Regions from separate parts of the Homo sapiens genome. Here regions 2 and 3 are each linked to region 1. Evidence: fine-mapped expression QTL. A gene starts in region 1. Each other region holds a variant in brackets. All regions are shown on one strand. Distances are between the middles of the regions.

Evidence for each region. PIP is the estimated chance that this variant, and not a neighbour inherited with it, causes the effect.
Region 2: its variant is fine-mapped to the expression of CCDC149 in whole blood (TOPMed, PIP 0.96).
Region 3: its variant is fine-mapped to the expression of CCDC149 in whole blood (INTERVAL, PIP above 0.99).

The regions. Positions count from the first base shown.
Region 1 is chr4:24,908,211-24,918,495 of GRCh38, forward strand. It overlaps CCDC149 (coiled-coil domain containing 149), which reads right to left and starts at 4,832. Exons shown (of 13, transcript NM_001395273.1): 1 at 4,607-4,832. The coding sequence starts at 4,654. RefSeq lists enhancers at 8,629-9,198, 9,199-9,767.
Region 2 is chr4:24,972,508-24,982,792 of GRCh38, forward strand. LOC102723675 (a long non-coding RNA gene) reads left to right here and starts at 7,311. Exons shown (of 6, transcript XR_007058082.1): 1 at 7,311-8,063. It also overlaps a transcript of CCDC149 not described here. The variant T/C (reference allele first, on the strand shown) is at 4,003.
Region 3 is chr4:24,948,732-24,959,016 of GRCh38, forward strand. It overlaps a transcript of CCDC149 not described here. Among named protein-coding and RNA genes, the nearest start is that of CCDC149, 41 kb to the left of the region's middle. The variant C/T (reference allele first, on the strand shown) is at 6,416.

The DNA.
Region 1 (10,285 bases):
GTAAATTGCCTCTAAGCTGATCCACTTTGGTTTGGGTTTTTGATCTTTTGTACCAAGAGAAAGGCAGGGCCAAGACTTCCCCCCAGGTCTCTTATTATCTTCAGAGTCTAAGTCAACAACTGAAACCCAAAGCTGGGTCTTTACCTTAACCACAGAGCTGGACTCTATACCTACTCAACCTCTCCTTTCCAAATATCAGTGGCTAGGCCAGGCACGGTGGCTCATGCCTATAATCCCATCACTTTGGGAGGCTGAGGCAGGATTCCTTGAAGCCAGGAGCTCAAGATCAGCCTGGGCAACATAGCAAGACTCTATCTCTACAAAAAAAAAAAAAAAAAAATTGGCTGGGCATGGTGGCACGTGCCTGTAACTCCAGCTACTCAGGAGGCTGAAGCAGGAGAATCCCTTGGGCCCAGGAGATGGAGGCTGAAGTGAGCCATGATCGCACCACTGTACTCCAGCATGGGCAACAGAGTGAGACCTCATCTCTAAAACAACAACGACAAAAACCAAAAATCAGTCTCTACTTTGGGCGGAGGCCCATGGTTAACTGTCTTCTGCCTCCTGGCCCCTGCATACAACATGCTCAAGGAATAGGAGATTGATTGCTATCTAATTAACCAAAATTCAAATAGTGAAATGGAATTATGTATAGTTTATCATAGAGTGGTGGGCTGAGCGATGACCAGGATTTTTATCTTGGAAATAAAAAGTTATTGATTGCCTGCATACCTGTACTTTGAGATGTCTCCAATCTTGAAAGCTCACCTCAGGTGGCGATAAGAATATCTGCCCCTCCCCAGACATTTAATTTCCAAAACAGAACCCTGGTCATGCTTCTTTCACACGCATGGGTGTGTTTACTTCCAGGCCTGAAAGAAGGCTGTAATTTCAGCTTATTATACCAAATATATGAAAATAAAACTGACCTCTGTAGGATTGTTTTAAATGAAAACTGCTTCCTAGAGGCAAGTGGAGGAAGCAACTGATTGAAAGAGAGGACGGGGCTCTGGGCAGGTGATGGAGAGGGGATCCAGGGTGGGAGACAGCACCCAGGACTTCTGCAGAAATAAATGCAAGCCCACGAAAATCCCATGTAGTCCAGATTAGCTGTGCAGTGATGTCTTCCACAGGTCCTTCTGCCAGGTCCCCAAACCATTTCGTAACACCACAGCTGCTGAGCACACTCTTCCCTGAATCTTACCTGTCTGGTACCAGACCCAGTCACACCCATGGAACCCCTGCCAGCCAAACTTGACTGGGCAGGGGAATTACCTGGGCAGCTCAGCTTGTAAGAAAGGCAGATCAGGGGGCTGCAACCCCAGGCACTTTTCAGCAGTAGGTGTATTAGTTTCTTGTGGCTGCTTGATATGGTTTGGCTCTGTGTCCCCACTCAAATCTCACCTTGAATTGCATTCCCATAACTCCCACATGTTGTGGGAGGGACCTGGTGGGAGATAATTGAATCATGGGGCTAGTTTCCTCCATAATGTTCTCGTGATAGTGAATAAGTCTCACGAGATCTGATGGTTTTATAAAGAGGAGTTCTCCTGCAGAAGCTCTCTCTCTTTGCCTGCTGCCATCCATGTAAGATGTTACTTGCTCCTCCTTGCCTGCTGCCATCCATGTAAGATGTTACTTGCTCCTCCTTGCCTTCCAGCATGATTGTGAGGCCTCCCCAGTCATGTGGAACAGCAGGCCCATGAAATCTCTCTTTCTTTTGTAAATCACCCAGTCTCAGGTATGTCTTTATAAGCAGCATGAAAACGGACTAATACATTGCTGTAACAAATGATCATAAACGGGGTGGCTTAAAACAACAGGAGTGTATTCACTCACAGTTATAGAGGCCGGAAGTCCAAAAGCAAGGTGTCAACAGTTGTTTTTTTCTGGGGACTTTGAGGGAGAATCTGCCTCTTCCAGCTTCTGGGAGCTGCCAGCGACCTCTGGCATGCCTTGCCATGTGGCTGCATCACTCCAATCTCTACCTTTGTCTTCACATGGTCTTCCTTTCATGCATCTCCGTCTTCCCATAGCCTGCTCCCTTGTGTGTCTGTGGCTTAAATCTCTGTCCTTTCTCTTCTAAGGTATCAGTCATTAGATTTAGGACCTACCCTAAATCCAGGGTGATCTCATCTAAAGATCCTTAACTTGATCATATCTGCAAAGGCCCTATTTCCAAATAAAGTCACATTTGCAGCTACTGGGGTTAGGTCTCGGATGCAGCTATGGTGGGGAGGTGGGGGGAGCAGGATACATAATTCAACTCACTACAGTAAATTTGGGAGAGACCCATAAACTTGAATTTTTCACAGGCACCCAAAATGACTCTGATGCAGGTGATCTGTAGGCCATACTCTAAGAAACACCAAGCCATTTGCTGCGGACTCAAAGTTGAATCAGACATGGTCTCCTTCCTTGGGAAGCCTGCCATCTAGCAGAAGATACAGACAGATGAGCAATGATTAAAATAGCAAGTGTGGCCTAGCAAGGCTCAGACAAGCAAGGCTCAAGCAATGAGTCAGACAGACCAGGATTCAAATCCTGCCTCTTCCACTTACCAGATGTGAGGCTCTGTGCAAGTTCCTTAGCCTGTCTGAGCCACTGTTTCCTTATCTGTAAAATAAGAAAGAATTCCTACCTTATGTCATTGTGAATATGAGGCCATGTAAAATGCTTAATATGAAGGATGCACTCAAAAAATAGTCATTAGTTATTATTAAGGTGGGAAGTAAGTTAGACCCATTTTCACCTCCCCCATGGCCCCTGGCTACGTGCCCACCTCATGTTTGTGAAGTTAAGGAGGTATTACTCTGGAGAAACTCTGCTGGGATGGGCAGGAAAACTCCTGAAGGACCTACTTCAGGATTCACTGACTTATTCAACAAGCATTTTTCGAGCACCTGCTGCATACAGAGCTCTGTGTATAGGCCCTGGAATAAAGAACCAAACAAAGCACACGGCCTAGTGAGGAAGCCTATTGTTACAATAATGTGGTCAGGGCAAGGTGAAGGTTAAGCCCAGCCAACTGAGGGGCACCCCATGCCATTTAGCACTTGAAGCCTTTCCATCCTTTAGTTCACTCTCACTGTCTACGGTATGACCTTCCTCCCAGACTATATCATGAAACCCCCAGGAGTTCTTTGAGGGTAGGGGAGTTCTTTGTCTTATTCACCACTGAATCCCAAGCACCTCACAATGTACTGACTCCTAACAGGCACCTGATATGCAATTGTTGGAGTAGTGAAGATTCTGCTGCTATTTAAGGGCCTAACACTGGACTTCTAAGGAGAACTACCTCCAGCCTCCTTGACTACTAAGTATGATTCTTGATGGGACCAGAAACAAGGTCCCCAGAGGATCTGCCCCTTAACATAAAGCCTGACAGTTTGAGAAGATGGAGCCAGGCTGCAATACAATGGATCATAACACCAGACAGTTAGGAGAGCTTTCAACTACTAGACCAATGCTGAGCAAACTAAACTAGGGCAGGAGCTACCGCATGTCATTCCTCTTCAGAAACACAACGCTCTGCACACACTGGGCATGAAGCACTATTATCAGACTGACCTGGAGACCCAGAAAACGATGAAAGGAGTGAGGGAGTAGAGGGTTTCCCTTCCCATAACCCACAAGGAAAGGAAAAGAGCAAACCGATACACTCTGCATTGTGTGCACAGGATTAAAGAAAAGGAAGCCCCAAGTTGGCCTTGGCTGGAGCTTGGTTCTCAGAAGGGAGAAATTCCCCGGCATGGGTAAGTAACACCAGGAATTGCCCCCACAAATGGTGGCAAACCAGGGCAACTTACCTGGTTGCCTCCAGGTGAGAGGGAGAAATCCGCATTCCCTCTCACCTGGAGAGGCCGGCAGCTTCTCCCGGCAGGCCGGCAAACTCTTAGGGGGAACTGAAGAGCAAACAGCATAGGATCCTGAAAGTGGACCCCCAGGGTATGTTTATGACAAAAGAGTCGCAGGGCAGGGGGACACGGTGTTCTGTGCTTCCACAAATCGAATCACTTCTGCACCTGTGTTTCACTTTTTCGATAAATGCCCCTCCCCACCTTACACATGGTAGGCCTGCAGTAAACACGTGTTGATTGAATTGAGCAAGTGAATGAGTGAACGGCTGCAGCGGACCCCCGAACTCCCCCAACTCGAACCACCGCCGCAGGTAATTCCACCTGGCCCAGGTTCCACCCCAGGGCTCGGATTCTCCCCCATGGCACCACCTTCCCGTTTCAGTCCCAGGCGTCCAATTGTTTGGCTCCACAACAGTGGCGAGCGGGCAGGCAGGTGGGGCTTGGCACCTTCTGCTCCCGGATCCCAGGGCTTCAGCCTCCAATCCAGGGCCAACCCCTGCCTTGGGGGGAAGGCCCCTCCCCAAAGGCTGACACCAGATGGCGCGGAAGAAAGTGGCGCCCGCGCAGACCCGAAAGTGCAGGAGGAGCGGCGCACCTGGCGGGGTCGCGCGGGTGCGGCAGCCGCGGCCACTTGGAGTGCGCGCCCCCCTCTCGTCCCTCCCAGCTCGGCCTCTCTGGGGGCGCGGGCCCGGGGCTGGCGGCCGCTCGGCCCGGCCCATCCCGCCTGGCCGGCGCCGCGGCCTCACCTCGCTCACCAGCCCCTGCCAGTCGCTCTCAGTCCGGTCGCCGTTCATGGCCTCCTCCTCCATGCGCTGGCCGGCCTCCTGGACCCCCGCCGCCTCCTCCTCCTCGCGACGTCGCGTCGCCGCCGCCGCCCGGGCCCCGCGCGGCCCCGAGAGGGCCCGGCGCCTCCGAGCCGCTGCGCCGCCGCCTCTCGCGGCCGCCAGCGCTGTTGACTCCACGTCAGCCTCCGCCGGAGGGAAAGGGAGGAGGGGCGCGGCCGCCGGGGCCGCAGACACAGCCCGGGCCGCAGCCGAGCCCCGCCGGGCCCGCCCCGCGCCCTCAGCCCCGCGACCTCGGGCTCCGCGCCTCCTGCCCGGCCTCTAGGCAAGGGGAAGCCAGGGTCTCAGCCTACAGGTCACTCCGGACCCCTCAGCGCTCTCCGCGCGGGAGGCGGGCCCCACGGGCAGGCCTGTGTCCCCCGCAAGAAGCAAATCCCCAAATCCAGTCCTTCTCCGACCACCATCACGACTCCCACGCCTAGAATGCAAGCTCCCCGAGGGCAGGGGTTTCCTTGGTTCGCAGATGTGCCTTTGGCAAGATCCTGGCCCATAGGAGATGCTCTACATATATTTATTGGACGAATATTTGTTGAACGCAAGAATGAATGAACCACGTTTTATTATATACTTAGCATTGTTTTTTAAACTATTAGTGCTTGCTTATATATTTTTTAACGTATCATTTGTCATTAATAGAAAGCAAATGTAAAAATTGAAAATAAAGCATTATTCAATTCTAAATAGGGCCAAAAACTCTGAGGGAGATGGTTAGCATGGGTTGAGAGAGGTGTCAAAGACAAATTGGCACTGGTGGCATTCCATGGCTCATGCCTGTAATCCCAGCACCTTGGGAGGCTGAGGCAGGAGGATCCCTTGAGGACAGGAGTTCAAGAGCAGCCTCGGCCACAAAGTGACACACCCCCTCTTTACAAAAAATAAAATAATTAGCAAAAGGGGAAGGCATTGGCATTAAGCTGAGACTTCTCCTAAGAGGAAAGACTGAAAGAGAATGACAGAGGGAAGGTGAATCACACACATAAGTCAATCGTATTCAAGGTGCTGTTCCTGTGACACCTAAAATCCCCTCTTGGACCACTATCAATAGTGAGCCCTCTGTACTCGCAGAAACGCTGTGTGTGGAGATGAGCAAGTAGGTTGAGAAGTTGTGAACCCATTGTACAGTTGTGGAAGCATCATTACCAACATTTATTTATAATTTTTAGCCCCTGTTGATCCTGGATCAACCCTGTGAAATGGATGTTATCCTCATTTATTAGATGGGGAAACTGAGGCCTGAAACGTGGAGAAACAGGGACTCAACTAGGACTTCTGGCTCTAGCATCTTGGAAATCTAAGAATGAAGTATCACCTTGAAAGTTTGTTCTTGGCCTTGTTTTGCACATGATAGACTGTTTGCAAAATGGCAGCAATCATTCCCCTTCTTTGTCCCTTGCCCTGCCACTGTCTCTTTCACTCTGTGCTCAGTCATGTAACTTGCTTTGACCAAAGCAACGTTTGTACATGTGTTACCAGAAAAAAAAAAAAAAAAAAAGAAAAAAAAAGGCTTTTAAAGCAATTGTGCATTAGGATTTAACTCTTGCTTCTGCTCTTGGAAACCATGTAAATAAGCTCCGAATAGCTTGCTGGTTAAGGTAGGATTCCCAACCAACAGTCAACCATCACCAGATGTGTGAGTGAGGCCATTGCCTGCCGCCCCCTCCACGCCCCCCCACCCCCACCCGCACAGCTGATGACAAGCACATGAGTGAGCCCAGCTGAGACCAGCCGAAGAACCATCCAGCTGAGCCTTGCTCAACTAGCTGACTCACAGCATCACATACTAAATAAGTAGTTGTAGTTTAAGCCACTAAGTTTTAGGGCGATTTGCTAGGTATCAACAGGTAACTGAAATGGATGGTGACACAACTGATGAAGGGCCTGAATGGCTTGAACTCTCCCTGGCAGCCCTTCAAAAAGCAATAGTCCCTGGCATCATAATCTAAAGAAAATTTTACAACGGACTGGCTGGCCAGGAGCTAAGAAAAGGAACCAGTATACTAGTCAGCACATTGGTTTTCTGCCTGTTGTATACAACTGCAGCACTCATCCTGGGGAAGTTCAATAACATTGCACACCATGGTCCCTGTCCTAGGGGGCTTGCAAACTAAGGTGCTAGAGAACAGCAGAAAAAAAGGTGGGGCTAGAATGCAGCTAAAGCTTCTGGTCTTCTGACCATTCTGGGCTGCCTAACTCATTATCTTTTTAATCTAAGGAGCTAGAAAGAAGGTCATCCTTGAGCTGAATGTCTAGAGTTAATTAACTCAGTGCCAAGCACTTGTTCCTAAGCCTGACGTCTCATGCCTAAAAAGCAAGGTACTGTCTGCCAATATATTGCCCTCTGGCAAACCATCTGTTTTCATCCTGACCTGTGGATAAATAGACTGTAGGAAAAGTGGGCAGAACTTGGTCCATCTGCCTTTCAAGCCTCCTTGTCTGCACCTTGCTCTCTGCCTGCATTCAGGTGGGAAAGCCCATTCCAGTTTCCACAGTTAGCTGAGCCCTTCATGATATACCACTGCTCCTTTGGCGCCCTCACTGGTATTTCAGGCAGCAGGACAGACAATCAATGAGCGTTGGGAGCCAAGAAATCTTCGCATTCCAGACTATGTGCCTTTAAGACCACTCTCCCTGTGACTCCATTTCCCCTATTTGCTTTCCTTCTCCGAAATAAGTCAGACAGTTATTACGGTATTTAAAAATAAAGCTGGGGAGCAAAATCAAAGTGTGGCAAGCCTCTACCCTCCCCAGCATGTGGGGAGACTTTCAACTCGGTTGAAACAGCATCTCTAGCTGCCTGGGTTTTCCTTAGAGGTTTCATGCCCCAAGTGCCAGCTCAAACCTGCTTCGCTTGTGAGATGTGATGAAATCACAAACCAAGGCAATGTAGCTGCAAGCAATTCTTTTTTATCTCTTTTCATTTATGTAGCCTGACATTGAGTAATAATAATAATTAAATGCAGTTTAAGCTTTTAGGCACCTATACCAGAAGGCCTCTAGACACCTCATCAACAGCAGCCCAGACTGACAAAAAAGAGAGCTAATTATATTGTGGTTAACTTTTTTCAAAGAAGAAATAAACCCATACACCAACTATCTTTATCCCTGATAAAAGCAGTACATTAAATGTCCCATCCGACAGTCCATTTGCACAGGATCATTTTAAAACCTGGTGCCCTTGTCTTAAATGTGCCACCCTGTTACAAAGTATTGAGACGTTTGCTTTAGCCTCTATTTTCACATCCCCTTGGCTTTCTGAAAACTGATCTCTAGGGACCTAATTTTTCCATATATATTCATAGCCCCGGGACCAGTTTTATTGATTTATTTATGTGCACCTATAGTGTTAGAAGAAAGTACTTAGTTGCTTTTGAGTGATGCTTTTCACTTTTAAAAGTTTGAGAGGGTTTTAGACATGGAAACTCCAAAATAGCTTAATCTAAAAACTTGAGCCAGCACAGACTGATGAAAACAAACAAACAAAAAATCTCTGGAGAGATTGGGAAAGAAAGGATGATTTGAACTTATTGTTAGCAACCTAAGCTCTCATTATGGGTTCTATACTTACTTGCATGAAGACTCTGGCCAGGTCTCGGCAGCCCCAGACACGCGGGAAAGCCCTAAAGCTTTTGATGTGACTTCTCCAGACAGTATTTCAGTTCAAATTCTGGCTGCCCAAGCAAAATTCGGGCTGTTGGAGTTCTCATTAAAGGAAACTAAGCAAATCTCCAGTAGAGATTTTGGCCGGGCTTCTCTCTGAACTATATAGTTGGGGCAATATTCATGGCCATTTTTTTTCCCCAGTGACTTTTCTCCTGCCTCAATTAAGAAACTCAATCTGGGCAGAAAATGATTCATAATGACTGTGGTTTATAATGGTGTGTGTGTGTGTGTGTGTGTGTGTGTGTGTGTGTGTACATATATTTATTAATTAGCTCTATATGAGCCAGGAGGGCCATTTTGACAGGTCCTGCCAGGAGCCCCTATAGCCTGGCTGCTAAACTACTTCATTTGCTCTTGGTTTTAACCAGGATCAGGAGACTGCAGGTCCTGGTGAGTGCCACAGCCAGGCCTCCTGCAGAGGCCTGAGACCTGAGGTCCCCTGAACCACTGGCCTCAATTCTGTAGAAGATAAGCTTCTCTCTCCTCCCCCTACCTAGAGGTTCTCTGGGAAGGACCTCATCCATCATTTCCCTACAGAGGGCCAGCAGCCAGATACCAGAGGGGCAGATGGGGGATTCTGGCCGGGTTCCTGACTCAGGGAATCCTCTGTGTCTCTTAGACCCCTGAGCTCCCAGGTCCTCTCACGGCCACCCCTGCCAAGCCCTCCCTGCCCAGCGGCAAACAGTCAGCACGAGCTGCTCCCCTCCAGCCCCGCTGGCTGCCAATCAGCCAGGCAGCAGGGGGTGGAAGGAAGTTGCACTCCCTGCTGAACTGCCGCGCTCACAGTGGCTGAGTGGGGCTGATGACGGCCTGGCAGGCCGGGGACCCGCAGTTGTCATCCTAAGGGGGCACAGGCTTGAGCGTGATTGGCTTGGGCGTTGTGGGAGACAAGAGGTGGGGAGGAGCAGAGGTGGAAAGGCCACTCCTTGGCTGTTGGAGGGGTTCCCAGAAGGGGGACTAAGATGTCAGGAGAAAGGAGGATGACCAGAAAGGAGCTGAGAGACAGAGGGAGAGACAGGGCCTGGGGTGCCGGAGGAGAGGCCTAAAGATAAAGAACCATGGGAGGAGAGCGGAAAACCGTGGGCGTCGGTGGGGTGGGGAGAAACCCAACCACAGGCTGGTGGGGAAAGTGGATCGAGATGCAGCCCACGGAAGGAGTTAAATGGAAAAGAGACAGGAAAAGTCATCTGCTCTCAGATTATTCAAATTTGTTGTACTTATTGATAATGTATTTCATTTCTTCTGCGTGGGGGGGATATGATTCAGCACAAATTTGATGTAAATTTATGGAAATGGAAACGCAGAGAGGCAGCAGGGCCCGTGCTGCTGACGGGTTAGCAGCATGGCCCTTGGCGAGGTGGAGGTTACTGCACCCTGGACTTGGGGAGCTGAAAATAGAAACGTCTGACTTGGGGGTCACTGGCCTCTCCTGCAGGCCAGAAGAGGGACTGACCCTGTCGTTCTGGAAGCCTTATGAAAAAAAAAATCTGATGAATGTCTAAAATAGGATCACCTACATTGCCCTCCTATCTAATTTTTGTCTTAGGGTGGGGGACAATCTTTAGCCAGTGGATATGGGTGGAAAAGGAGAAAAAAGAAGAGAATAAACATGATCAAGGACCTACTGTGTACACAGAAATTGCTAGTGAAATGACAGAAATGATTTTTCTTCTGTACTGTAGAAGAATAATGGGGCTTGGGGATGGGGAAAAAAAACAAAGAAAACAATTTGATCGAGAAGGTGAAAAGGTGGCATTTCATATAAATGGCCAGTGCTGGTAAAATATTTATTGTCCATTAGGCTGTCCTTCAGAACATCGGATGTTGATTTTTATCCATCTCCACCCCCATACCAGGTCATGGCATTTATCTAATGACGTGCCCCTCTCCCAGTTGGTAGCAACCTCTCTAGCCTGGCTGTGA
Region 2 (10,285 bases), 64 kb after region 1:
GTGTTGCCCAGTCTAGTCTCAAACCCCTGAGCTAAAGCAAGCCGCTCCCCTCGGCCTCCCAAATGCTAGAATTACAGACACGAGCCACCACGCCCAGCCTTTTTTCCTCTCTTGCCCAAATTCCTAAGAGGCCTGGGGAGTCACACACTACAAACTGTAAAATCTCATCAGAGACATTTTATTTAAACCTGTCTAACTGACTGACTTTCCAATCTGACCCTGGCATAACATCACATGACAGATAAAGAAGGAAATCAAAACATTTTACCCCAAAGTATGTTTATTTGTCACACTTTGAAATAGCCTGCAACTTTGTTTTTGTGGTGGAATTGCATCTGTAACGAATCTCTGTTAACTAGATATTTCCCCTTCCAGACCCTCCCAATCCTGAAGGGACTAACTGAGGGTCTAGCACTTTTTAAGGGTTTGAGCAGGAAACATTCACCATCTTTTGCCTGTAAGGGTGGGCACCCATGAAGCTTCATCTATGTAACAAGAACCTTGGTTTCCACAACCCCTCATCTTGACCTAGACACTCTTCTATTGATTCCAGGTCTTTAGATAATAACTTAATTCTTTTAATCAATTGCCAATCAGAAGATCTTGGAATCCCCCTATGACCTGTAACCCTCCCCTTCAAGTTGTCCCACCTTTTCAGACCAAACCAATATATACCTCACATGTATTGACTGAAGTCTTATGTCTCCCTAACACATATAAAAACCAAGCTGTAACCCAACCACCTTGGGCACATATTCTCAGCACCTCTTGGGACTGTGCCTCAGGCCTTAGTCACTCATATTTGGCTCAGAATAAACCTGTTTAAAAATTTTATGGAGTCTGACTCTTTGTGTCGACATGGTGGTGGTCCCATGGGTGTACACATATGTCAAAACTTATCCAATTGTACACTTTAAGTATATGGAGTTTACTGTATATCAACTGTACCTCAATAAAGTGCATTTAAAAAAAGTCTGGAGAAAAAGAAGTCCCCTTTTGTTTGCACTTGGAGCTGTGATTAAGCATGCCTGAGGCTACTGGCAGCTATCTTGACATTGTGAGGAGAAAACATGCTTGAGAGTGAGGCCAACCCAGAGGATAAAAAGAACTGAAAAAGGCCAGAGTTAGACCAGATTCCAGCCATCCATCGGTACTGGATCCAGCTGTGCCTACAGCAGTCTCTGGAATTTTTGCTCATTGAGACAATACGTGTGTGTGAGTGTATGATTAACCCGGTCTGAACTGAGTTTTGTTGGTTACAACTGAGGAGTTCTGTGCAACGTTATCCACAGTCCACCAGGCAGGCTGAGAGCTGCTTCTTAACCAGCAAGTGCCTCATGGAGGGATTGGGTTTGGGGTTATGGAAGTGAACAGAGCTGCCTGCCTTAAGGCAAGTAGGCCTTGCTCTGTTCCCCTTGCAGTCCCCGAGCCCGGGAAGCCCGAGAGGGAGCCCTTCAGTGCTTGTGCACTCGGCTGTTTCGCAAGAGTCACGGTCAGTTGCGCCTCTGCTTCGGAAGAGTATTTTTAGTGGCAAATAAAGTGGTGCGCAAATAAACAAACGCCTGGAACAAATCCTGCAAAGGAGAGCGCCTGTGTGCGGCCCACTGTCTAACTAGGTCAGCCTCGGGCACAGCTCCTTTTGACAGTTTGCTCCCCAGGGCGGAAGGTGACCCGCAGGTGCCGGCTGCTTTCCCCACCAATCAGCCATCTGTGGTTTGAGACTCACAAGCTTAGGAGAGACTCGGGAGGCATCAGTTCCGCATCCCGCACTCCCACGTGAATTTGCCCCCGCCCTGAGTCAGAACCCTAGAGGGGTGAAATCCCTGAATTCTGCAGAGGAAACCCATACTTCTTTGCTTTTTCAGCAATTCCAGGAGATGTCGTTTTTCAAGTGGCAAATGTGTGGCTCTAGAGGACAGAGTAACCACCTTGCAGCCAAGAAGCCCTGATGTCAACTCCCAGCTCTGCTGCAGCACCCAGAAATCACCGGACCTTTCTGCATCTTTCTGGGTGACTCTGTCATGAGGATTTCATAATGTAATTCCCTAGCACATAAGAATTTCTCAACCAATATGGCTTTCTTTTTTCCTTCTCACTAGTCTTTGAGCTTCTTAAAGGGAAGACATGTCCTATTCATCTCTACACCCCCCACACCAGTCTGCATTCAGTAAGTGCTCAATCAATGTCTGCTGAATCACATCTTCCCACTCAACTGCATGGCCTCGGATGATCCAATTCTGTGGGACTCAGGGTCTCCCTGATTCTGAAGATCTCCATTTCAGCCACCCCATCCTGGTGCTTTTTCTGGAGAGACTGGGAAAAAGGTGAGCAGAAGAGAATAGAACCAGGAGAGGGAGTGAAAGAGGGGTTGAAAGGGGGTTGGGGGAAGGAAGGGGAGGGAAGGGAAATGCTATAGTTTGAATGTGTCCCCTCCAAAATTCAGATGATGCCAATGTGATAGTAGGAAGAGGTGGTGCCTGTAAGAGGTGATGAGGCTGTGAGGTTTCCTTCTTTGTTAATGGGATTAAAGGTCTTATAAAATAGGCTTTGCGCAGCATTGCACTAGCTTGCTCTCTTGCCTTATGCCATGTGAGGTTGCAGCAAGACGCCCCTCATGAGATGCCAGCACCTTGATCTTGGACTTTCCAGCCTCCATAGCTATGAGAAATAAATTTCTGTTCTTTATTAATTACCCAATCTCAGGTATTCTATGATAACTATTCTGTTATAGCAGCACAAAACAGACTAAAACAGGAAGGGAAGGGAGGAAGACAAAACAGAAGATAGGAGAGAAAGGGAAAAGAAGGGAGGCAAGACAAAAGGAGAAGGGGGAAGGAGAGGGAGGGGAGGGGAGGAGAAGGCAGAGAAGAGGAGGGGATCTTGAGGGGAGGGGAGAGAATGTAAGAGGGGAGGGAAGGAGAAGGAAGGGGGAGGAGGGGGACAGGAGAGGGAGGGGAGGGGAAGAGAAGAAAGCGGGGAGGAGAGGGGACAGGAGAGGGAAAGGAAGGAAAAGTAGGATAGGGAAGGGAAGGAGAGAAAAGATGAAAGGAGAGGAGAGGGGAGGGGAAGAGAGGAGAGGGAAGGGGAGGAGAGAGGAAGCATACGTCCTGGGGAAGGAGCTCATTGATGGGGCTTGGGTCCATGCCCATCCCTGAACCAGTCACTGTGCACTATCACTAAGTCCCGTGTCCACCCCTGCAACCATGAAAGTAAACACAGTGTCAAGGGTGGTCCCCCAAAGAAAGGAGAAGTAACGGGTCCCAGGCAAGCAGAAACCACAGATGTCTTCTCTGCCAATCCCGCATCTGTCTTTGAATTTTGTAATTAGAAATGAGTTTTTTTTTCTGATCAGGCCCATCATTTAACTCAAGCCTGGTTGGGGGTCCTGGGAAGGGCAAAGTCTGTGTTCCAGTGTGGTCCATGCATACAAGGAAGAGAAAAGAAGAGAAAAGGAGGGTAGAGGAGGAGAGGGGACAGGAAAAAGAAGGAGAAGGGAGAGGGAAAAGAGGGGAAGGGAGGGAAGGAGAGGGAGGGGGGAAGGGAGGGAAGTGGAAAAGAGAGGAAAGATTTGGTGGCAATCATTTGAGCCCCGTGTTTAGCTGTGCCTACTTTAGATTTTTCAGTTATTTGAGCCAATAATTACCTTTTTCCTTAAATGAGTTTAATTCTTTTTAAGAGTACGTGGAGCTCAAAGAGATCCTTACTAATCTATCTGGGCCCCTTAGAGTAATTCCAGGGTCCATTTATCAAGGAAAGCAACATGGAGCACAGGCAGAGTCCCCCACTTGAGGCCATCTGCAGGTATCCTCCTTGCTTGGGCACTGTGTGGCCCTGGAACCAGGCCTGTGTCAGGGTGAAGGGCTGGAGAAGGTGGAAATGGGTATAGAGGTATCACCAGGACATTTATCCAAAGTGTGTCATCAGGCTGGGTGCGGTGGCTCATGTCTGTAATCTCAGCACTTTGGGAGGCTGAGGCTGGCGAATCGCCTGAGGTCAGGAGTT[T/C]GAGACCAGCCTGGCCAACATGGTGACACTCCATCTCTACCAAAAATACAAAAATTAGCTGGGCATGGTGGTGCATGCCTGTAGTCCCAGCTACTCAGGAGGCTGAGGCAGGAGAATTGCTTGAACCCAGGAGGCAGAGATTGCAGTGAGCCGAGATCGTGCCACTGCACTCCAGCCATCTGGGCAACAGAGCGAGACTGACTCCCTCTCAAAAAAACAAAAAACAAAAAGTGTGCCATCATCTGGCCTGCGCTGGTATAGTGTCCTTTCTGAAGGATGTTCCCAGAAGTGTTGTCAGGTGTGTGCAATGGACTCCAGCTCTGGAGCCAAGCGGGGATTTGGAAGCTATGTGCGATTGTGGAGAACATCTGGCCGCTAGAGGAGTGTGCATGGACCACACTAGAACACAGGCTCTGCGCTTCCCAGGATGCCTATCCAGGCTTGATTAAAGGATGGACCTGATCAGGAAAAAACAAACAAACAAACCTCATTTCTAATTACAAAATCCAAAGACAGGCATGCAGGATTGGCAGGGAAGACATCTGTGGTTTCTGCTTGCCCGGGATCCATTATTTCCCCTTTCTTTGGGGGACCACCCTTGATACTGTGTTGCTTTCATGGTTGCTGGGGTGGACATGGGACTTAGTGACGATGTACAATGACTGGTTCATGGATGGGCATGGACCCAAGCCCCATCAATGAGCTCCTTCCCCAGGACATTGGCTGGAGCTTTGGGAAAGAGGTATTCTTTTTCCATCGAGGACTCCAAGCTGGCAGGTTGGAGATCCTCTTAGCTATCTTGTGTGGAGATGCTGCCTAAGATCTACTAAGCACAGACAAAAGCAGAGCCATGCGTCAGGAAATATCCATTTCTCCCTTGATCCAGCCATTCCTGAAACCACGTGCATTCATTTTACAAACTAACATTTCACTCCCCAACACCTCTGTTATTTATAGTTAAGCCAGTTTGAATCAAGTCTCTGTCATTTGTGGCCAAACAAATCCTAATTAATATTATCTGTGAATCAACAAGCCTGTCTAGCTAATACCAGATGTTGAAGATGATAAAAAAGATGATGTCGTGGACCCAAATGAAATACCTAAGGTGTGGTAGAAGGCGCCCAGCACTGGAGTCCAGCTCTAGTCCCAGCCCTGCTACCCCTAAAGAGGATAAAATAGCTTAACCTCCCCTAAGGCATTACCAATACAGGGATGATAATACCACATAGGTCTGCCTGTTAGGAATATTGACCAGATGATAATATGCATGTGAAAGCATTTTGAAATTCAAAAGCTCAATACACACATAGTAACAAGGTATGCTATAAATCTATGCTACCTGGCTGGGCACAGTGGCTCATGCCTGTAATCCCAGCAGTTTAATAGGCCAAGGTAGGAGGATTGCTTGAGGTCAGGAGTTCAAGTCCAGCCTGGGTAACATAACCACAATCCCATCTCTACAAAAATAAAAAATTAACTGGACTTGATGGTGCACACCTTTAGTCCCAGCTACTCAGGAAACCGAGGCAGAAGGATTGCTTGAACCCAAGACTTTGGGGCTGCACTGACCTATATTTGCACCACTAACTCCAGCCTCAGTGACAGGGCAAGACCCTGTCTCAAAAATAAATAAATACATGAATAAATAAATCTGTGCTGTCCAACACAGTAGCTACTAACTACCTGCTGTTACTGAGCATGTAAAATGTGGCTAGTCTGAGCTGAAATGTGCTGTAAGTGTAAAACACACATCAGCTTTCACAGACTTGATTTTTTTAAATAATATAAATATCCTATTAATAATTTTTATATTAATTTCATATCGAAAGGATATTTGTGATCTACTGAGTTAAATAAAGTACATTGTTAAAGTTAATTTCATCTGTTTCTTTCCCCTCATTTAATGTAGACACCAGGAAATTGTAAGTTGCATGTGGTGGTTTGCATATGTGGTTCACATTCTATTTCTGTTGGCAGCACTTGTCTAAATTGTGAGGGATGGTTCGTTGTTGGCGTGGGAGGTCAGTGAATTCTGGAGGAGTCAGAAAAATCAGAAAAACCTCAGATGAAGAGACAAGGATGGGGGTAGGATGGCATTTGGAACCCATTCTCCATGGTTGTTGTCTCTAATTTTCCCTGTGAATAAAATGAACAGTCTTCCCTTTCCCCATCATTCCTCCCACCATTCGCCACCCACCGCCCACCAGAGAATGAGATGGTTTTAGCATCCTGTGTGCTTTTCACAGCTGAAATGCTGGCAATTTTGCCACAGATTCAGATCTACTCGGACTCACTGGTTTCCTTTGGTAAAATGCCCCATATCCAGAAGGGAAGTCTGCTGGCTTCTCTGACCTGGGCGTGTCTTTAGGATTTCTCAATAGGATGACATCTGTGGCTGGTTGTCCAACACTCATGGCTCCCTTCTGGAAGCGGTGCACTTTGTTCTTACCCTGAGTTACCCCGAAAAGGAGACCCTGAGAAGGACTGCATGCAAATGGTTTGGGGGCACAGGAATTGCAGGGAACACTTTGAGAGAGCAGGGAAGTGAGACAGGGAACAAATGGAAGCCAGTAAAGGGTGAATTAATGAGGCCACCATGGGGGACATGGATTCAGTGTCTTGGGAAATACCTTGAGAAATACTGTGCAGCATATCTCCTTACTGTCCCTGTGTAAGGAACCTGGGATATTTATTAACTAACTTTTATTCCTTAGTATTGAGGGTCAATCTTGGGGTGTTAACTTTCTGGTATTTCCAGCTTGGGTGTACACCACCAGGAACAGGGAATGCCCTCAGACAGAAAGATGCAGGCAATCTTTGAAGTATACAGGAAATGTCTGCAAGTGATCTTCAGGATAGGCTGCAGGGAAATGGTCAGAGCACAGACAGGGTCTGCTATACCTTAGAAGAAAGAGAGAAGACATGGAGAGAAGTGGGGTCCTTGGCAATAGTCCTGATCTACTGGATCAAGCCTTACTTGAAGCCTACCTCTAGACTTGTCATTACCTGCCCCTATATATTCCATATGCTATTTAAACTGGTTTGAGTTTTCTGTTATTCACAATGTAATGATTTCTAACTCAGTCTTTTCCTAACCTGGTTCCTACAATTGAGCAGATTCCCTGTGGTTTCAAAATCAGGAAACAGGGCTGATGGGTAAGTCATGTCATCATTTCCTTCCTGAAACCAGAGTGCAACGGAAAGAAAAGGAGGAGTTGCATGGGATGGTGGCCAAGTTCTCATTGTGACCCAGGGACCATTACAGTAAAAGGAACCTGCCTAGGGAACTTGCTCAGCTCTCTCTAAACACAGTCAGCTCCATGTTCCCAACTGAATGTCACGTCAATGCGTCGATGTTAATTCCGGTAAACTGAATCCACCCGAGAATCTTGTTGTGGAAGCAAAATCGGCTTAAAAGGCTTCTTTGATGCACAGGGAATTCTCACAAGCAATAAATTAAAAATAATCAACGAGTTATTTTATATAATCTGTATATAATATAAAGTAATTGTGTCCATAAATAACGAGGCAGTTAAACAGGAAAAGAAAGGATTTTTACCTGACGTTCACATCGCTTCACAAGGTTTAGTGGATTCAGAAGGACATCTGGACTCCAGGAAAATTTAAGCGTAGCATTTTGAGACTTCCCTAAGGCCCCCTTCTCTAGTACGCAATCGCGGATTCACCAGCTTGAGTCAGTTGGCCTCAGTTTTGCTTTTGGAGGTTTAAGTCGGGTGGTGGGAAGAGATACATTTCCATTCCTGATATGGCCACAAGAGGGAGCTCCCAATGGTCGGCTGCACCTGAAAGTCCTGTCCGTGAAAACTGACAAAGAAAACTTGATTTAAAAGGCGTCTTCTGATAAACCTCAGCATCTCCTTACTAACATACTAAGAGCAATCACTGAACACTTTTCGTATGTTCAATGCGTCCTCGCGGGATCTGAGAAGCATTGTCCTATTAAATCTCAGTCGTCTGATTTTCAGCATCAATTTATCTTGGGAGCTGCTCCTGCATTTTATAAGGTGAATTCTACAGCAACGAGATTAAAGATTCAGAAAGTGAGTAAAGTTAACACTGAGCCCTTGGGCCTGGTAAATTGACAACGGAGCCAGAATAAGTATTTACCATTGTAAAGCTCTGATCCTCATGGCACAGTTGTTTCTGAAGAATGCTACCAGCACTTCCCTGCCCTGCATTTGTCTGGCTTTTTCCATTCATATTTGAATCGATTCTCTCTCTCTCTCTCTCTTTTTTTTTAATTATTATTATCATTTTCCAGGGACTTTGGGTCATTATAAGATTGCAGGTAATGACAGACTGTAATTAAGCCTAAAACAGATTTTTCTTTTAGGAGACAGAAGAATCCACTCTAGCTGAGACTCCAGATTGCCTGGGCTGTAATTTACGGTGCTATCACAAAGGGGTCCTTTTTCCGCATGGTGCTCTGCGGTGATGAGCCAGAAGCTGAAGCTGAGGGGTGTGTGACTCTCCCGCACACTCTCTGGAGTGAGCAGAATGGACGCTTAAATGGCTAAGTATAGCTTGAAACTGATTACAGGCCAGATCCCACTATTGTGCATCATCAGTTGTCATTGTTGAGACTGAAATTGCACTGGGATGTTTCTCTTTGTCACCGGCTCCAAGCTCATTTCTAGGACAGGAGTGAAACCGTATGGTGAGCCTCGGGCCCAAGCACAGGGAGAATTGTTCTTCTGGTGTGTCCCCCAAGGAAGAGCTTGGCAGGTCTTTGGCAGTGGAAGATGGGCTGGCTTCAGTCATGATACCTATAACATTGGTATTGCTAGGGCTTCCAGATTTATGGATAGTAAACTCTAATCTCTAGCAAAGAAGGTTGAAATTGTAGCTCTTCCTCAGTTGCTGTGTGAACTTAAGCAAGCAGCTTAACTTCTCTGGCCTTAGTTTTCTTATCTGTACAACAGAACTAATTATAGTTACTCTCTGATATGGTTTGGCTGTGTCCCCACTCAAATCTCATCTTGAACTGTAGCTCCTATGATTCCCACGTGTTGTGCGAGGGACCTGGTGGGAGATAATTGAATCAGGGGAGCAGGTCTTTCGTGTGCTGTTCTCATGATAGCGGACAGGTCTCACAAGATCTGATGGTTTTATAAAGGGGAGTTTCCCAACACAAGTTCTCTTGTCTGCTGCCATATAAGACGTGCCTTTCACCTCCCACCATGATTGTGAGGCCTCTCCAGCCACATGGAATTGTGAGTCCATTAAACCTCTTTTTTTGTAAATTGCCCAGTCTTGGGTACGTCTTTATCAGCAGTGTAAAAATGGACTAATACACTCTCCTATTCTCAAGGTAGATTTGCAGAGCAATGAAATGAGATATATGAAGACCCCAAGATATATATATATATATATATATATAGATAGATAGATAGATAGATAGATATTCACACACACACACATACACTCAGGCACTGTACACACACATGCACAAACATAATAGGCATAGAAGATATAGAAACTACCCATATGCCCATATGTATTATTATGGGTATGTGTGTGTGTGTGTGTGTGTGTGTGTGTGTGTGTGTGTGTGTGGTTTCTTGGTAAAAGCACTGGGGTAAGACTATGGAGCGTTCATATGCTAGGAGATGAAGTCTGGACCTGACTGCATAGTAACGATAATAATAATAATCTTGCATTCAGGGCTTATTGTGAGCCAGGCACTGTTCTAAGCTCTTTGCATGTATGAAAGCAGCGGTTTTCAATAGAAGCATTATCAGCATTCAGGCAGAACAATTCTTCATTGTCAGTGGGACTGTCCTAAGCCTTGTGTGATTACCAAAGGTCTCTCAAGACCCTCATCATCTCTGCTAACGAAAGGCAGCCCAACTCCCCTGCACTTTTAAAAACACCCAGCTGAGAACCAATTGCCTAAGTATAGATATGTACTCTCCAATATGGAAGCTACTGGCCACGGGTGGCTATGAATGGCTTGAAATGAAGTTAGTCTGAATTGGAGTGTGCTGCAAGTGGAAAAAAAACAAACACTGGATTTTGAAGATTTGGCATGAAAAAAATCGTATTAATATTTTAAAAGATTGATTACATGATGAGATGATAATATTTTGGATAGATTAGAGTAAATGAGGTATTTAAATTCATTTCACCTGATTCTTGTTGCTTTTTTCTTTTTTCTTTTTTTTTTTTTTGAGAGGGAGTCTCACTCTGTTGCCCAGGCTGGAGTGCAGTGGCGTGATCTCAGCTTACTGCAACCTCTGCCTCCCAGGTTCAAGCGATTCTC
Region 3 (10,285 bases), 41 kb after region 1:
GTGTCCCCACCCAAATCTTGAATTGTAGTTCCCATAATTCCCACATATTATGGGAGGGACCTGGTGGGAGGTAATTGAATAATGAGGGTGGGTCTTTCTTGTGCTGTTCTTGTGATAGTGAATAAATCTCATGAGATCTGATGGTTTTATAAAGGGGAATTTCCCTGCACAAACTCTCTCTTTGCCATCCACTATGTAAGATGTACCTCTGATCTTCGTTCATCTTCCGCCATGATTTTGAGGCCTCCCCAGCCACGTGAAACTGTGAGTCAACTAAACCTCTTTCTTTTATAAATTACCCAGTCTCTGGTATGTCTTTATCAGCAGTGTGAAAACAGACTAATAGAATCCCCTAATCCTGCCCATTCAGACAAGGGTAGCAACGGCTGTTGTTAGCCTCCAGGGCTTCATCATGCCTTTGGGGTTTCCTGGAACACTGTCCATTCTGTTGGAAATAACCTCTTCATTAAACTCTTCTCAAGACCCCACAGAAATGTGGCATCTCTTTCCTGCTGGGACAGATGCACTCGGAGACTTCTTAGGTAAAACAGACCAGAGAGGCTCTGCCCTGAATGTAGCTGGGGCTTCCGTGCACACAGTATGCCCCACCCTCATGCGTTTACAGGGACCTGATCCTGTGCAGAAAGACACTTCCAGCTTCTGAGATTCCTTCCAAATTGTCAGCTGTAGAGAGGTAGTGGTGGCAGGGAGGGGGGGTGGTGGGGGGACTCCCTCATCTGTCATTATTCAAATATATTGAGCTCCTATATTTGTTTATTCACTCATTCAGCTAACACCAGTGGAGCACCTCTACTGACCCAGATGCTGTGCTAGGTTCTGAGGTTAAGGGGTAAATAAGATAGAATTCCTAGTCTCAAGGGGCTTACACACATTTGCAAACACACAAGCCAACTACGAAAACCTCAGAGCCAGAAAGAAAGGGCCCTGAGATATTTCTCATCCACAGCAGCACTGAGGCCAGGAAAGCAGGACTCGGGCTCTGTCAACCTGAGAGAAAACAGCAAGAACAGTGCATTGTGGAGTTAGGATCTAATTCCCTGCGTGGGAAGGAAGTGGCAGGCAGGAGAATAAGACCAGTGGGATCTTTCCCCAAGATGTTGTCAGGGATTCATCCGTGGACTCCCCGGGGCCTGTGACTAAGGTGGGTGGTTGCTTTAGGAACCTGCAGGTGCACAGAGGGGACAGCAGAGGTGGCCGTGAAGAGAAGGATGGCGACAGAGGTCATAGGTTATGCCAAGGATCAGAGAGTTTGGCTCATACCAGAGGCACATGGCTGAAACCATCTGTGTGTAACAGCCATCTCTGCAGGGGTCACCCCTGACCTGGAAACTCAAGAGAGAAATTGTTGTCCTGGTAGAAACTGGTAAGGACAGCCTTGACATTCCTCAGCCTCATGAGGTGGCAGAGAGAGTATGCCAGAGCCCCTGTCTATATCACAGTGAGAATGCAAAGGCTGTGAGCATGAACTCTGGAGCCAAACTGCCCAGGGCTGAATCCAGTCTTTGCCACTTGCTGCCAAGTAATACTATTTTTGTTTTCAGCCTTCTCATCTGTGAAGGGTGATTCTAATCCAACCTCATAGGTGGGTTGTGAAAATGTATTTAATTAGTATCTGCAAAGCACTTAGCACAGTGCCTGACACAGAGTAAGCGCAATGCAAATGTTAGTTGTTATTACTCAACATCACTTTACTATTTTCATTTCAGTATGGACCCCAAATCGAGTGGACTCGGGGGTGGGAATATGGCTGCTGGGAATGAGCAGAACATTGGAAGGGGAGTGGAGAATCCCAGCCTTTGGAGTAAGACAAAGATTTAAATCTAAACCCTGCCATGAGCCAGCTCCATAATCTTGGCAAGCACTTAGACCTTCTCCAATCCTCAGTGTTCTCATCTATGAAATGGGGATAATTATCGTACTTACCCCTTAGGGTGGCAGTGGAGGGTAATAACAAGTTCCTTTATTTTTCATTTACTCATTCATTCACGTATTCAATAAACACATTTTTTCCCCACCATACAAGCTATGTTTACTAAGGAAACAAACTTCTTTCCCAATTCAGGGGTCTGGGGCCTGTGTAGCCACCATTCAGAACCTCTAATAAGCAGGACCTGGCCAACGTGGCCACAGGAAGTTGACTTAATGAGAATTAAGTCTTCTCATGTCTTGACTGGCTGCTCCCTGTGTTCCTCAAATCTAGCATTTGGGAAACAGATTCCCTCAACATCATAGCTCAGCATCTATGTATCTTTGGGGACCCCTTTAGGTTAAAAAGCAGGTGTTGTCAAGCTGGGGGAGTGGGGAAGGGGGCCTCAGGCAGGGATACACAGGAAATCGCTACCTGCAGTGGGTGATCACCACATGTGTGGGTTCCGTGGGTGCCCAGGCTGTCACCCGGGCTGCAGGCAGCAAGTGACAGATCCCATGCATGCCTCCTCATTTAAATTCATTCCACAGTCCAGATCTGCCTACACCCAAGGAGCCTTCAGGGCAAGCTGCCCCGAATGTTTCCATTCAGAATCATGCATCCCCTCTCATTTTTGGAAGCTTTTAAACTTCAGGGTGGACAGCGTGGCCCTTGGGAATGTGCTTTCATGCATTAGGAGTCGATTTTAAACAGCAAATATGCCATAGTCAGTCATAGAGGTAAATAATAATACAACTTCAAAAGAGCAGAGCACAAAAGAGAGGCTATTATTAATGGGAAAAATAATTTTAAAGTCATATTAAAAAGCCTCAAGTCTAGTGGAAAAAGCCAGGAAATGGGAACAAAATTAGCATTATTATAGCTTTTCATGGTAACTTACTCTGGGTTTTTCTGGTGGCTTAAAAAAAGCAGAAAAGAAGGGAAAAGCTGACTGATAACAATTTATCCGACCAAATACATTTCCCATCCCAAATGCACCTGTGATAGTGACTGTATTTAAATTGTTTCCTTTTTATATCTGTTTTGTGGCCATTTATACCTCACAGTGTTATTAGAGAAAGCAGCATTTTGTGTGGAATGGTAAACAGTAAAGCTCTTTGAGGCCTTTCAGAAAGAAGTGCAATTCGAGGGGCAGGAATTATTATTATTAATTTGCATGTTAATAATCCAAATCTTCACTAAAGCCCACACTGCAGATGCACCCTCTGAAACTCCGCAGAGGTAAGTGCTGTATATTAATGGGGCACCTTTGGTCTTAGAAGAAAAGGAGTTTCTGTGAAGGACGAGACCTTTTCCTTTCTCAATTTTGAAAGGAGAGTCCTCTTTTTGTTGGGTGCTCATTGCCTTTGCTTCAGTTAAACTGTTCCCTTCTCAGATCATCCTCTTTCTCATCATTTCACATAAAGTCCCCAACAATTTCTCTCAATTAGGCTTTAGGGCACTCACAACCCCACTCCTCTGGAAGCATGGTGAAGCATACGTGTACACATCTGTGTGCAGTGTGTGCTAACGTGCACGCCTCAAACCTTCGGCTTTGTTTATACATATGTGTATTCTATTATTAATGGTTTGGAGCCATTTCAGTTCTGAAGTAGGCGAAATTTAAGTTACTTTTTAAAACATATTTTTTGGCTGGGTAAGGTGGCTCATCCCTGTAATCCCAGCATTTTGGGATGCCAAGGCAGGAGGATCACTTGAGGTCGGGAGTTCAAGACCAGTCTGGCCAACATGGTGAAACCCCATCTCTACTAAAAATACAACAATTATCCAGGCATGGTTGCAGGTGCCTGTAATCCCAGCTATTCAGGAGTCTGAGACAGGAGAATTGCTTGAACCAGGGGGCTGGGCAGAGGTTGCAGTGAGCCAAGATCACACTACTGCACTCCAGCCTGGGCGAAAGATCAAAACTCCATCTCAAAAAAAAAAAAAAAAAAAAAAAAAAAAAAAATATATATATATATATATATATATATATATATATATATAGTGGTAAAAGACACATAACAAAAAATTTACCCTCTTAACCATTTTTAAGTGTGCAATTCATTGATATTAAGTACATTCACGTTGTGCAACCACCACCACCATCCGTCATCGGAACTCTTTTTATCTTGCAAAACTGAAACTCTGTACCCCTTAAATAACTCACCTTTCCCCCCATCTTCCCCATCCCCTGGCAACCACCATTCTACTTTCTGTTTCTATAAATTTGGCTACTTCAGACACCTCATGTAAGTGGAATCATAGAGTATCTGTCTTTTCGGAAGAGATTTTTTATGAGAAGTCTAGGTTTGAGAACATCTGTTAGAAGGTGATTGTGATGCCAGTGGAATGTGACTGACAATACTGGGCTGCTCTGTGAGAGCAACCTGACCCTCCAATAAAGTGCTCATTCCCCCAGTAACAGAACTTGCCCCCCTCCAATTGTTGCCCACTGTCTATTGGGTCCAGAGAAGACTGGCAAGTGGATGACATCTGAGAATTGAAGGGATACCACTTCTCTAGCATCTGGCTGGGGGCTCCACTGGAGTAGCAATCAGTGATCAGAACACAGATTCCTGATTTTGGAGGATGGGGCCCTTTTTGCCCACCCTGGCTCTTGCAAGCTGTGTGCAGCTTCCTCCAGGAACATGTGCATTGTTACAAGTCCCTCCCTCTCCAGCTGAAATGACTTCCAGGAGATTAAAAGGGCTCCCCCTGCTTCATTTTTGTCTTTTCTGCCTTTTGAGACCCAAACATTAAAGACTAAGGCATTCAAAAACAACTGCCTGTACTAGCAAAATTAGAAAGTGACTGCGCATAGCCAGGAAAAGGCACATGCTCAGAAAAGACCCCAAAAGACCTCAAGTTTATACCTCAACCTGATCCTTGGCAAACAGCAAACTCTAGAGAAGCAAGATGATCTGATTTCTAGTAGTACCGGATTATTATATACAAATGTCTAGTTTTCAACAAAAATACTTCAAAGCATGCAAAGTATGGCCTATTCAGAGGAAAAAATAATAATCAGCAGAAACTGTCCCTGAAAAAGACCTGATGCCAGCTCTACTTGCCAAAGACTTTAAAACAACTGCCTTAAAGATTCTCAAAGAACTAAAGGAAGATGTGGAGAAAGTCAAGAAAATGATGTCTGAACAAAAGGGAAATATCAAGAAGAGAGAAAAGCTAAAAAGAAACCAAAAGAAATTATGGTACTGAAAAGTATAATAACTGAAACAAAAGGCTCACTAGAAACATTCAAAGAGAGATTTGAGCAGGCAGAAGAAAGAATCAGTGAACTTTAATTTAGGATGATGAAAATTATTAGTCTGAGGAACAGAAAGAAAAAAGATGGAAAAAAAAAAGTGAACAAAGCCTAAAGAACCTATAGGACACATTGTGGAGGTCCCAGAAGGAGAAGAGAGAGAAAGGGACCAAGAGAATATTTGAAGAAATAATGGCTGAAAACTTCCCAAATTTTATGAAAGACATTAATATAAACATCCAAGAAGCTCAACAAGCTCCAAGTAGGATAAACTTAGAAAAGACCCATAGACAGCTTCAAGACAGCCCTGCCCCCATGGCTTTGCTGGGTACAGCCCAGGCTTCATGCATTGAAGTCATATGCTTGCAGATTTTCCAGGCAGGTGCTGCATGCTGGTGGTTCTACAGTTCTGAGGTCTCAGGGATGGCCCTGCCCCCAAGACTCCACTATGTTTTGTGCTAGTGAGGGCTCTCTGTAAGCTCTGCCTCCGTGGTAGGTCTCTGCCTGGGCTCTGAGACTATCCAAGATATCCTTTTAAATCCATGTGGAGGTAGCCATAACTCCACAGCTTGTACACTCTGCATGCCTGCAGCATTAGCACCATGTGGATGCCACCAAAGTTCACCACTTGTGCTTTCCTGAGTGGTGGCTTGAGCTGCACCTAGGCCCACTTGAGCCACAGCTGGATTTTTTCTAATGCAAGGAGTACTGCATTGGAATGCAGGGAGCAGAGATTCAAGATGGCCCTGAGCAGTGAGTCCTGAGGCCCCCTCCCTAGAAACAGTTCTGTCCCCAAGGTCCTAGCACTCTGGGCCTGTGATAAGCATGGCAGCACTGAAGAGCTCCAAAATGCCTTCAGTGTCATTCTCCCACTGTCTTGATGAATAGCACCTGGGTGCTTTCTATTCATACTGATCTTATCAAATGGTTGCTTGGTCATACTCTTGGTTTTCTCCCCTAAACATGCTTTTTAATTATTTACATGGTTAAACTGAGAATTTTTAAAATTTCTACATTCTGCTTCCCTTTTAATTATAAATTAAATAATTTCTCTACATTTTATTATAAGTAGTTAAGATATACAGTATCTCAGATGCCTTGCTGCTGGTATTTGTTATAGCAACACCCTGCTTCTGGTACCAACTTTTGTCTTACTCCATTTGTGTTTCTATAACAGAATATCTGAGACTTGGTGATTTATGGAGAAGAAAAGTTTATTTTTC[C/T]CTTGGTTCTGGAGACTGGGAGGTCCAGGATCAAGGCACTAGCATTTGGTGTCTGGTGAGGGCCTTCTCACTGCATCCTTCCAGAGGGGAGGAACCTTCTCTCCTCACACAGCAGAAGGCAGAAGGGCAAAAAGGGCAAACTACTCATATTCTGCATTTGAGTAGCCTCTTTCATAGAGCCTTAGTTCCATTAATGAAGAAGGAACCCTCAAGGCCTAGTCACTTCTTGTAGACCCTAACTCTTAATACTATCACATTGACAACACGTGAATTTTGGAGAGGACACATTAAAACCATAGCAATGAGGAAATAACCCAAGTATCCATCAACAAAAGAATGAGTTAGAAAAATGTGATATGTACATACAATGAAATATTATTCAGCCTTAATAAAGAAAGAAACACTGACACATACTACAACATGGATGAACCTTGAGAATATTATTTTAAGTAAAATAAGCCAGTCACAAAAAACAAAAACAAAAACAAATATTGTATGATTCTACTTATATGAGGTACTTAGAGCAGTCAAAATTATAGAGACAGAAAGTAGAAGGGTGGTTGCCAGAATCCAGGGGAGGAAGAAATGGAAAGTTGCTGTTCAATGGTAATAGAGTTTCAGTTTTTCAAGATGAAAAGAGTGATGGAGATATGGTGGCAATGGTATTAAAAAATATTATGAATGTATTTAATGCCACTGAACTGTACTCTTAAGGTTACATGGTAAAGTTTATGTTTTGTGTTTTACCACAATAAAAAGTTTGAAGAAAATTCTTATAGAGACTTCAGTTGAGTAACACTTTATTCACACCCTTCCTACAACCCCAAATAGAGGAACACAATCTTTGCTTGAATCTTCATCTAAGGAGATGGCAGAAAGTTTAACGCATATATTAGACTCTAGCGGTGGTTCTGAAATAATTGGAGCCCAATTGTTAGACTACTGAGAGGCAAAAATATAGGCCTCAAGGTTTTCATGTATCATCTCCCAAATTAACTGGGTGTATGCTGAGTCATTTCTCCTTTTGCTGCCTTAGAGGACAAAGTTCTTGTGAGATGACAGCAAACCTAGTTAACACAAACTACACAAACTAACCCCATAACAAGGATTTCTCTGAACTTGCCCCAGGCCTGATAGTTCCAACTCACCCTCTCAGTGACCCTCTATTAACATATGTAAAGACTTTCAAAGTGACTTCTAAAGCTATCTTGTTCATTTAAAGGCTGCTGACAACCTTCTGACTCTTCTCCAGCCTAAACTTCTGAATTACTATATTGCCATTCCTGCGAGAGCTAAACCAGACCTAGGTAATTTCGGGCTATTAATATAAATTACTTTAGTGATCCACTACCTCAGCTCTCCCCAGTATGCACCCACACACATACCTTACCTGGGGCCCTCCATGCCTATTATATCGATGATATCATAGCAATTGGGCCCAGTGAGCGAGAAGTACTATGGATGCCACAGTAGGACACTCTAGGAGATGGGAAATAAACCCTACGAAGGATCAGGGGTCTGCCACATTGATTAAATTTATAGGTGTTCAGTGGCCTGAGGCAGGCCATGACATTTCATCCAAAGTAAATAAATAAACAAATAAATTTATTGTATTTTGAATCGCCTACCACTAAGAAGGAAGCAGAAACTTGGCGGGTCTCTTTGGGTTCTGGAAGTAGCATACTTCATTCACACTTGAGAAAGTGTATACAATCTAATTTATCAGCTGACCTGAGGCTTTTAGCTTGAATGGGGCCCAGAGCATGAAAGAGCTCTGTACTAGGCCTAGGCTACAGTATAAGCATCCCTGCTATTTGAGCTATGTGACCAAGAAATCCCATGGTACTAAGCACATCACAAAAAGATACTGTGTGGAATCTCTGGCTCCAACATTGGAGCTCAAATCCCTAGAATTATGGAATAAAGCCATGAAATCTATGGCAGAGAACTCTACTCAAAACACAGCTCCTGGCATACAACTGGGCTCTGGTAGAAACTATCTGACCATGAAGTATCATGTGGCCAGAGCTGTCTTTTATAACCTGAGAACTGTTAAATCCACCAAGCAACAAAATCAGGCACATCCAGGGACCTTCCATTGTTAGATAGAAATGGTACCTCTGGGGTTAGAGGGCATAAGTCATCTCCCCAAACCAGTAGCACAGATCCTCATGTAATCTACCAGTGTTTCATTGACTCTCCTCTTTAAGCTCACATGTATAACTTTATGAGAGGTTCTCTACAACTAGCTGAAGGAGGAGTATTAAGCCCAAACTCAGCCTACTGATTTATTGACTTGATATGAAGGTGTTGGCCTAAAAGGGACCACCACCATAGTACAATCCCATTCAGGTACAGCCCTAAAAGACTGGGGCCAGTGTACCTGGTTGTCTATTTTCCATGGAGCAATAAGAAATTTAAGTCAACGGAATACATGTATTCATAAGCAATGAGCAATGCTTACATCACGGGTTAGCAAACTCTGATCCATAGGCAAAATCCAGGCCAATGCCTATTTTTATAAATAAAGTTTTATGAGAACATAACCATGTCTGTGCATCTCCATATTGTTTGTGGCTGCATTTGCAAGAATGGCAGAGTTGCAACAGAAACTGGATTGCTTACAAAAGCAAAAATATTTACTATCTGGTCCTTTACAGAAAAAGTTTGCTGACTCCTGACTTACATAGTTAATAAGGGAATGGGAAGAAGCAAGATTGGAAGATTCGGAATGGGAAGGTCTAGGAAGGATGTGGGTGGACTCCTGAGAGTAGACATCAAGTATAGTATCTTCATATAGTACACCCAAGTTCACCAGAGAGTATCTGGTGCAAAAGAGACATTAAACAACCAAAGGGGCTGGTGCCTCAGCCAGTAGACATCAGGAAATGTCTGTCCTTGGTCATCCCAGTTTTTATGCAATAGGTTCATGAATGAAGTAGTCACAGTGGCAGATATAGAAGCTCTTTATGACTCAATGGCATAGGTTCTTTCTCACCAGGGCTCATTGACCTACTAATGCTGCTGATATGTGATTTGCCAACAGTAGAGACGAATACTTAGCCCTGCATATGGTAGCGTACCTTGAAGAGTCCAACTAGCCACATTGAAGCAAATTGATTATACCAGAAGACTTTCCTTTGGAAACGGCAGTGCTTTATCATGATCAGGATTGTTTCTTCTAGATGGTTTGCCTTTCTGCCTGCAGTGCCTCAGACTACCTATCTGAAGCACCACTATCTAAAGCTCACAAAGTGTCTGATTGCTAACATTGGGATCCTACATTACATTTCTTCAGACCAAAGACCCACTTTACAACAAAAGAGATGGGCACATAACATTGAGATCCACTAATTCTATCAACTATTCCACCATCCAGATCTGACAGTTGACAAGGACGTTAAAAGTCATTATAATCATTTTCATATGTTGTAAGATATCTTAAAAGACTCAACTCTAACTTCCAGAGATTAAAACTATAATACTTGAGGTAAAAAAAAATGCACTATATGCAATTCATGGATGATTCGATATTGCAGAATTAGTGAAGATCAAGGCATAGCTATAGAAAGTATCCAAAATGAAAAACAGAGAAGAAAAAAAAGCCAGGTGCGGTGGCTCTAACCTGTAGTCCCAGCACTTCGGGAGACTGAGGCGGGCAGATCCCTTGAGGTCAGGAGTTTGAGACCTGCCTGGCCAACATGGCGAAAACCTGCCTCTACTAAAATTATAGCCAGGTGTGGTGGCACACACCTGTAATCTCAGCTACTCATGAGGCTGAGGCGCTGAGGCACGAGAATCACTTGAATCCGGCATGTGGAGGTTGCAGTAAGCCGAGATCACGCAGGCAGAGCCACAGCTCTGTCGCCC